Linked DNA regions of Homo sapiens: region 2 is linked to region 1. The links come from fine-mapping of genetic effects on gene expression. A gene starts in region 1. The other region holds a variant in brackets. All regions are shown on one strand. Distances are between the middles of the regions.

Region 1 (4,521 bases):
AATCGTCCAGCTGTGTTCTCTCCTTTGTCATACCTACATGTGCAGGCCTGGACTTCCCACGTGCTACCATGAATGCAGAAATGTAGAAATTGACATATCAACAACCATTGATCGTACACTCAGCAGGCAGTTTTATTGATTGATTGATTGATTGAGATGGGGTCTCTGTCACCCAGGCTGGAGTGTAGTGGCACTATCTCGGCTCACTGCAACCTATGCCTTCTGGGCTCAAGCAATCCTCCCGCCTCAGCCTCCTGAGTAGCTGGAACTACACGTGTGTGCCGCCATGCCTGGCTGTGTTTTGTATTTTTTTGTAGAGACTGGGTTTCACTATGTCGCCTAGGCTGGTCTTGAACTCTTGAGTTCAAGCAATCCTTGCGTCTTGGCCTCCTAAATTGTTGAGATTATAGGTGTAAGCTACCATGCCTACCCTCCTAAAATATTTAACTCATATACCTTGTGACTCTAAAATACTATTTCTGAGGATATATATTCAATACACATATGTATATATGCAAGGATGTTCACTGTATTACATATGTACAAGATGTTCATTATGGCATTGTTTATAATAGCCAAAGACTGGTCACAATCTAAATTTGTATCAATAGGGGCCCTGTAAAATACTTTGTAGTGAATCCATACAATGAAATTATTTGCAATATTTTAAAAGAATAAATAAGTCTTTAGGTCCCAATGTGGAGACATCCAAATTATGTTAAGGAAAAAAGGCTTGTAGGATAGTACACATAAAATCATCTTTTTTTTTCCTTAAGAAGGGACATACTTGTATATAGGTACACACACACATACACACTCGACGTACACATAACTCCGTTTTCAAAGGTCACAAGTTATTTCCTGGGAATAGGATTGGGAGGATGTAGAATGAGGTAGGTAGAATGATTTTTGTTTGCTTTTCACTTTATATTCTTCCCTACAATTGGAAACCTGTTTTTTAGCCACCGCGCCAGGCCTAATTTAGCATTTTAGATAGTGATTGATGTTATGAAATAATATAACCAGGCAATACGAGACAGTGTGAAGGGTGCTACTTTAGGCTTGTCCTAGTAGGCTTCCTAAACAGGAGCTATCTGAGGAAAGAGGAGGAGGAAGAGCTTCCAGAGATAGCAGACTGGGGCAGGAAAGAGCCTAGTGTCCCAGGGAAATAAGGCAGGCCAGTGTGTGAGCGTCCAGGCGAGGTGGGGAAGAGGGGGAGTGCGCAAGGTACAAGCCAAGTAGGGGATTGTGTGAGAGGCGCCAGGGCCAGATCCTGCAGGGGTTTGCAGGCCGCGGTGAGGGGGTCAGATTTTCTTCCAAAGCCGCCTTGCTCTGTGCAAGCGCACTATCGCAGGCTGCGGGCGACGCTGCCTCTGGCCGGCGCCCTCCGCCGCTCCAGGCCGGATGGTGCCTCCCGTGGGCATGTAGGTGGGGATGGTGGGTTTTGCCTCTGTGCGGTCACCGCCTGTCTGCGTTGCTGCCTTCTCCGGGGCCTCAGACCCTGGAGAAAGCCCCGACAGGGGAGGGGGGCGCGCAGCCGCAGGGGCGTCCAGCTATCGCGCACTGCGGGGGGAGTAGGGGCGGGCGCAGCGCTCGGCACCGCCACGCGGGTTCGGGCCGGGGAAGGCAGGGGCCGGTACGTGACGCGGGGCATGCACGTGGCCTGGGAGTGTGCTTTTCGGGACAGGTGCGGGGGCCGCCGCGCGCGCAAAGGCGCAGACGCACGCGTGCGGGCACCGGGCACCGTCGGCCGTCGGGTTATCCTTGGCTCCGCGGGCGGCCGCCGAGGTCCTGTCCACCCGGAAGGCGCGACGTCCTCGGGGGACGCCAGGGCGCAGGGGCAACTGAGCCGACTTCGCAACTCGGAAGTTTTTCTTTGGCTGTGATGGTCGATTTGCCCGTCTAAGAAATGGGACTCTGGGCCGGGCGCGGTGGCTCAAGCCTGTAATCCCAGCGCCCTGGGAGGCTGGAAGATCGCCTGAGGCCAGCAGTCTAGACCTCGACAACGTAGCAAGACCCCGTCTCAAAAAAAAAAAAAAAAAAGGGGGAGTACTCAAAAGAATAGGAAAGCGCTTTGCAAACTTGGACACGAGTTGGGCGTTTTATTCACTTTCTCTACTACCCTCCTCCCTTTGGGAGCCCCAGGGGCTGGAGTAAGCACGCTACCACCCACTATACCTCTCAGTGCCCGCGGCACAGGAGCCGCACTCGACTTTGCATCCCCCCAGGGCCTGTACACGCCGGAAAAGCTCCCGCGGGGTGCGGTCGCTGGGCCTCGTCACGTGATCCCCACTCAACGCCCCTGAGCGGGGGGGGGAGCAGCGAGCAAGTGCGCATGCGCATCCCTTCTAGCTCTTCCCCTCCACCCCCCACCCGCCCCCTTGGCTCGGACGCAACCACTGTCAGCTCCTCCCCCTCCTCCTCCTTCATCCTTCCTGACATTCACTCCCTTCCCCCAGCCAATTGGTTACGTCAGGCAGACAGGCCGAAGAACCAATCACGACGCTGTGCTCAGAAGCCGCCACGCGGAACCGGCCGGATCCGACTAATAGGGGCCCTTGGAGCGGCCACGCCTCAACCGGGCAGGGTAGCTTGGGCCCAGTGGGCGGTGCTTCTCCTGTCAGCATGTGGGCGGGGTAGGGCGGGGACCAGCAGCCGCAGAGCCGTCCTCGGCGGTGGCGACGACGACGACGTTGCTCAGTCTTGGGGTGGGCTCCGCGGTGCAGGCCGAGCTGCGCGGAGGGCTCGGCGATCAGCGGCGGCGGCGGCAGTGGGGAGGCCGCAGCGCCATGGGGGGGCGTTAGACAGGCTGCGGCGGCCGAGGCGAGGGGCGGCAGCGGTTATCTGGTCCGCGGCGACCTTCGGCCGGGCCCGGGGGTGGGAAGGCCTGGGGCGGGGGTCGTCCCTGGTTGCACGGGGCCGCGGGGCGGGGCTCGCCGGCCGTCGGGGTGCAGGAGGCCTGGGCCGCTGAAAGGAGAAGGCGCCGTCGGTCGCCAGGCCCTGCCGCCGGGCCGCTTGACGACGACGCTCCCGCGGGGGCCCCGCCTGAGGAGGACGCGGCGGCGGTGGCGGCGAGGCCGCGGGAGGCCGCGGAGGATGGAGGAGCGGAAGGAGGAGGGCGAGGCCGAGATCCAGGAGCACGGGCCCGAGCACTGGTTCTCCAAGTGGGAGCGGCAGTGCCTGGCCGAGGCCGAACAGGACGAGCAGCTGCCCCCCGAGCTGCAGGAGGAGGCGGCGGCCGCCGCGCAGCCCGAGCACAAGCAGCAGAAGCTGTGGCACCTCTTCCAGAACTCGGCCACCGCCGTGGCCCAGCTCTACAAAGGTGAGGCCGCCGCCGCCATCTTGGTACCGCTTGGCCGCCCCCGCCCGGGCCCGGCCCCGGCCCTATCGGCTCAGCGGCCGCTTCGGGGGGCCGCGACGGCGGCGGCCTCGGGGATCCCGGCCGGTGGCTCCGCGGCCCTGCCGCCCCCTCCCCGCAAGATGGCGCCGCGGGAGGGAGGCCCGGGGTTGGGGGGACAGGCCAGAGCCGGCGTGGGGGTAGCCCCGCTTTGGGGTGGTCCGAGGGTCCCCGCTCTCCGGGCCCGGCCACCCGGTGTCCCCCTCGGCCCGGAGACGGGAGAGGAGGAGCCCCCGTCACAAAATGGCGAAGGGAGACGGCGGGGCGGCCCCATTGTGCCCTGAGCCGGCCTCGGGGCGGGGACTGCCAGGGGGGGCGCTTCCCTGCGCCGCGGCTCGTCCCTGATCTGTGCCCCTGAGCTCTGCGGCATCCCCTTTTCCCCGCCGCGACCTCCCTGCCCCCCCGGTCCTCACACTGGGTTTGGGATCCCGAAACCCCTGAACAAAATGGCGAAACCTAATATGGCCGTTCCGGAGTGATTGACGCGCAAATAACATTCTTGTTCTCTTTCTTTCTCTTTCTATGTGTGTTTCTTTTTTCTTTTTGGTTTTTTTTTTTTTTGGCTTGCTTTTCAGACCGAGTGTGTCAGCAGCCAGGACTTTCTCTCTGGGTCCCCTTCCAAAACGCAGCCACCGCCGTCACCAATCTCTACAAAGGTAAAGATAACCTTGCTGCATTGCCGATTCAGGGAAGGGCCGCCTGCGTCAGGGTGTCTGCCCTGCGTTCCAAGTGTGTTTTCTGCTCCCCAGCCCAGCTGCTAACCTTGAATACCTTGCAACTTGAGAATCGCGGCGGTGCTCTAGCTAGATCCACCGGAGGCGATTTTGACACCTCCCTCCGCCCCCCGGGACAGATGGCAACGCCTGGGGACGTTTTTGGTTGGCTTCTCCTAGAAGGGGCTGTTGTTGGGCACCCAGTGTATAGAGGCTGCTGAAGGTCCTGCAGTGCCCAAGATAACCGCCCCGGCCCCCTCTCAGCGAAGAATTATCATGCCCCTAAAGTCAGTAGTGCTCAGGTTGAGAAGCGTTGAGCTGGAAGACGGCTGAGCCTTGCCTCCCTCTGGAAAAGACATTGAGGGAAGATAAGAGTTGATGTTTTTTGTACTACAGTCGGAAGTGGGACGA
Region 2 (4,256 bases), 28 kb after region 1:
GTCTTAGTGGTGCAATGGCTAGTATAAGCGTGCGTTCGAGTACCCCAGGCTCTCCTACACATGTAAGCAGTGGATCGAATGCTAGTCGAAGGAGAAATGGACTCCATGATGTCGATTTGAACACTTTCATATCAGAAGAAATGGCACTCCACTTGGACAATGGTGGAACTAGAAAGCGTACCTCAGCCCAGTGTGGCGATGTCATTACAGACTCACCAACCCATAAACGCAACAGAATGATCTAAACTGCAAACATTTTCACACCCACCATGCTGCTTGAAAGCCACTTGATCCTCAACATATACTATAATTGCAAAGGAAACATGAGGCCATCTTCCCTTGTTCACTGTTTAAGACAAGTGAATTCTATAGTGGTTGCCATAAAAGGAAGTTCTAGGTATTTATAGTAGATGCCTCTTGTAATTATGGCTTTCTTAAAACTATAATCCTAGCAGAGGACATCAGATATTGTGTAGTCGTTAGCAAGATCATCATAGGCAAACATATATCCGTTCCAAGGCTAAAAGTGACCTTAACTGTATTTATTCTCAAAGGGAAAGGAAATATCAGATGTTTATTTGGTTATAGAATGCTTTTTTTTTTTTTGGGTCCATTTCCTGCTGTGTTGAGTATTTTGCTTCAACAGTATTGCCAGGTTCCTAAAATTGTCTAAAAACATGATTTGGCTTCCATTTTTGCAGCTGCACTGTACCATGCACCTGGTTTCTATATAGTAACAGTGTGCAATTCTAATTATTGGACTGTGCCCTGTTTTTAGTTTTCAAATCAATTTCTAATTCTGGTGATTGTGTGATGTAAAGAGGTGCTATGATGGTCATGCAATTAATACTAAATATTGAATCAATGCCCAGAGCTTTATTGGATTCACTTTGTGTGTGTTAGTGCTCTAAAGTAGCAGTATTATTATTAAACTGTCCCCAGAGTAACCCTGTAGGCCTAAAGTACTCAGTTTTAAGACAAACACTACTTCCCATGCGGGGTACTTTCCTTATGGTAAATGTAAACATGTAGACTGCATTCGAGGTGACCTAAAGTAGAGAGGTCATGAACTTTGAGAATGGGCTTCCTTTTTGGTTCAGTATTAGTGAGAGGGAGAGGGAGATGGATGGTGGGGTAGGTTTTCTAGTCTATCATTTTACATTTTTCATGGAGTCCCTGCTTAGTGCAGTTTCCATTGGAATGGGTGGAAGATGATAAAGCTCTCTTTTTTATCTACTAATAATGTGATTGCAACTTAAAATAGCAAAACCCAACTCTCCCTGTCCCTCCAATCCCTCTCCTAAAAAGTTCAGTTTGGAATCTCATTCTGGAAAAGATGGAATCGCATGGAGATTCTCTAGCTGTTAGGTAGACCTAAATAAAAAGTTCTCAATAGATTCCTCTTTTGAGTAAATATAAGACCTCTTGTAGCTACAATGTTTTAGAGCATGTTTCATCTTCATTTTTAATATCCTGAACTGAATGATAGTGTTTTTTTAGATGAAGAACTGATGTCAGCCTGCCAGGTACTGTAATTTATTCTATCATATTATTATATTATATATCAAGTAGGACAGTGAAAAATGTTTCCTTGCAAACTTGTAGTCCAGTATCAGTTACTTCCTATTTTTATCCTTAAAAGACCATTGCAAATCAGTGTAAGGGTTTTTCCAGTAATTACTCACAGCACTTTGTTAAAGTTTGCAATTTCTTCAGCCATTTAATAATATCTTTCTGTGAAGAAACTTTGCTGAGTTAACCATAAATGTTCATTCATTGACTGGGTGGGATGTGAATGGAATGTTAGAAATGTTGTGTGAATTGAAGTTCTGTATTCATTATAGATGTAGCCCTTATTTAAAAAAGTGAATTCCATACTAAAACTAGGAATGAAAGTGAGAGATTTCTAAACTTTTGCGAAAGTGGGTCATTTTTTGTTTGACTATAATAGCAGGAAGAATTATAGCAATCTGTCATTTTACCTGAAACAGACAAGCCTATGTATTATGAATACTTTCAAGCTTCCCTTTGGAATATACAAGACATGCGTTTGGAGTTACCTTTGTTTTTCTATCGTAAATTTAGATTCTGGAATTGGGGTTTGGTGGTGCAATGTGTTGCTCACAAGTGGCCAGAACTCCTATTCCTAAAAGGATTTTGAGATGGAGGAACACATATTTAATTCCCCTTTATGCCTTGGTTCTTGCTCCTCTTTCCACGTTGGATAACAATTTTTTGGTTGTTTTGTTTAAGTTGGTGCTCTGAAGCTTAATCTCAGTACCCTTTACTCTGAATTGTCAAATTTTGATAAAACGTGCCATTTTCTTTGGTAAGAGAAAGCAGGTCTTAATGTCTGCCAGAACACAATTTATATGCCTTATTGGCTTCATTAAACTTTTAGAAAACTTTAGCATTTGTTACTTTTTTCCATTGCGTTTACTTTCAAATGCACCTAATGAATT[T/C]GTCACCCAGTCGCAACTTTTCCCTTCTCTGTCCCATTGCTTTCTCCTTTCCCCGACGCACAGAATAAACATGAAGCTCAGCAGTAGAAGCGTAATGATTTCCCTCAGGAAAAACTTCTGACAGCTAGGTTTTTCAAGGGTTTCCCTGTGCTAGCTGAGATGCAAAACAAATCATGGAAGATTGCATACCTGTGTGGTATTTTAAAAACAAGTTGACTTTTTCAGTTTCTTGAACGGTTAAGGGTGGATTTAAAAACTAGACAGTTTAGTTTTGGGGAACAGAAGCTCTCTTCGTCTTAAGCCAGATTCTCTGATTCTTTTAGACGTCATAGCTCCTTAGTTCTGCTCCTGTCGCCCTAACTTGGCATGGGCAAGTTGAAGTTCATCCTTAGACTGCAGCGTTCTGAGCATGGCTGAAGTATTAAAATGTTTAATATTTTTTAGAGCAAAATTGTTGGAAAGCATTTGGCTGAATCTAAAGACCTGCAGTCAGATTCTTCAATGTGGTTTACCCAACTGGAGTAGTGATAAACACCTTAATCATAAAATGAATAAAAACAAAAAAACCATGGGGCTTGTCTGCAGTTTTGTTTTGGTCATCACATCTGAATAACTTTTTGATGCAATCAAATGAAGTTTAGGCTTTTAAAAAAGAATTAGCTTTCTAAATGTTTTTTTCTAAGGGCTACTGGAACTCATTAAACTCGAATAATTGTGGCTTTGGGCCTGAAGATTTCCATTCAACAGTGAAAACTGGCTAACTTCCTTTATAGTGAGAGGGATGGCCAACATCCAACCCAGAGGGCTAGTCAGCCTCAGAGGCCAGTGCAAGACGCCAAGAGATGATTTTGAAATGGGGCCATAAGTTTAGAAAATTATGAACAGAATGATTGAGTTTTTGGCCTGGCTACTACCTCTAGTGGTGACTACGTCAGCAGATTAATCTCATTGCATTTTACTTTATGTAGTATGTTGTAACCTGGTGCTTCATTCATTAGATTGGTGACTGAGGTATTTAGTCATGGTGAGGATGGGAATCTTCAGAGATACATTCTGGATTTGTGGAATAAAGTGACTAGAAAGGTTCTTCCAGAGCAACCCCTTGTTTAAAGTTATAAGTGTTTATGGTACCTGCTACCCCTTCTGGAAAGTTGTCGGCTTTGATGGTTTAGATGACCTTACCCCATAAGGCCAGCTTCTAGCCTCCCTTTGGAATATTTGAGGTGTGTGATGTTTTAGTGGGGGCAGCATTTGAGAGACGAGCAGGCCCGAGCACCCAGGCTGGCTGTCAGACCGTGTGTTGTGCTGTTGGGTTTGATGGGATGAGATATCCAGGGTTTTACTTCCTATAATGGGATCTGCAGGCTCCTTGTGAAGTTCAGTTAGACAGTAGCCTGTGACGTAGCAAGTCAAGTTTTCGATGGCCCCTCATTTTTTTTTTATTTAGTGCTTAAAAAAAAGATTTAAAACAGCAAAAATCAAGCCACACAGCAGCTTATAGTATATACAGGTCTTTTATACATTAGAAGTAATATGGTGAAATCTTTTTTTTTTTTTTTTTTTTTTGTGATGGAGTTTCACTCTCTCACCCAGGCTGGAGTGCAGTGGCACGATCTTGGCTCACCACAACCTCTGCCTCCTGGGTTCAAGCAATTTTCATGCCTCAGCCTCCCGAGTAGCTGGTATTACAGGTGCCTGCCACCACACCTGGCTATTTTTTGTATTTTTGTTAGATACGGGGTTTCAAATATGGTGAAATCTTGTGACAGAATAGTATTCCCTTGTACAGATAAG

Direction of the effects. Alleles are on the strand shown, and positions count from the first base shown. SD is a standard deviation of normalised expression in the study named.
For the expression in regulatory T cells of the gene that starts at base 2,696 in region 1, T is the low allele of the variant in region 2 and C is the other (moderate effect, 0.60 SD a copy in Schmiedel 2018).

The links. PIP is the estimated chance that this variant, and not a neighbour inherited with it, causes the effect. A credible set is the group of variants that fine-mapping cannot tell apart.
Region 2: its variant is the best candidate, but not a certain one, in a credible set for the expression of HAPSTR1 in regulatory T cells (Schmiedel 2018, PIP 0.71).

What each region holds. Positions count from the first base shown.
Region 1 is chr16:9,088,949-9,093,469 of GRCh38, forward strand. HAPSTR1 (HUWE1 associated protein modifying stress responses) reads left to right here and starts at 2,696. Exons shown (of 4, transcript NM_014117.3): 1 at 2,696-3,322; 2 at 3,973-4,053. The coding sequence starts at 3,097. RefSeq lists enhancers at 861-1,726, 3,996-4,165 and silencers at 1,637-1,767, 2,556-2,625, 2,796-3,135, 3,346-3,845.
Region 2 is chr16:9,116,668-9,120,923 of GRCh38, forward strand. It overlaps HAPSTR1 (HUWE1 associated protein modifying stress responses), which reads left to right. Exons shown (of 4, transcript NM_014117.3): 4 at 1-4,256. The coding sequence ends at 245. Among named protein-coding and RNA genes, the nearest start is that of HAPSTR1, 27 kb to the left of the region's middle. The variant T/C (reference allele first, on the strand shown) is at 2,463.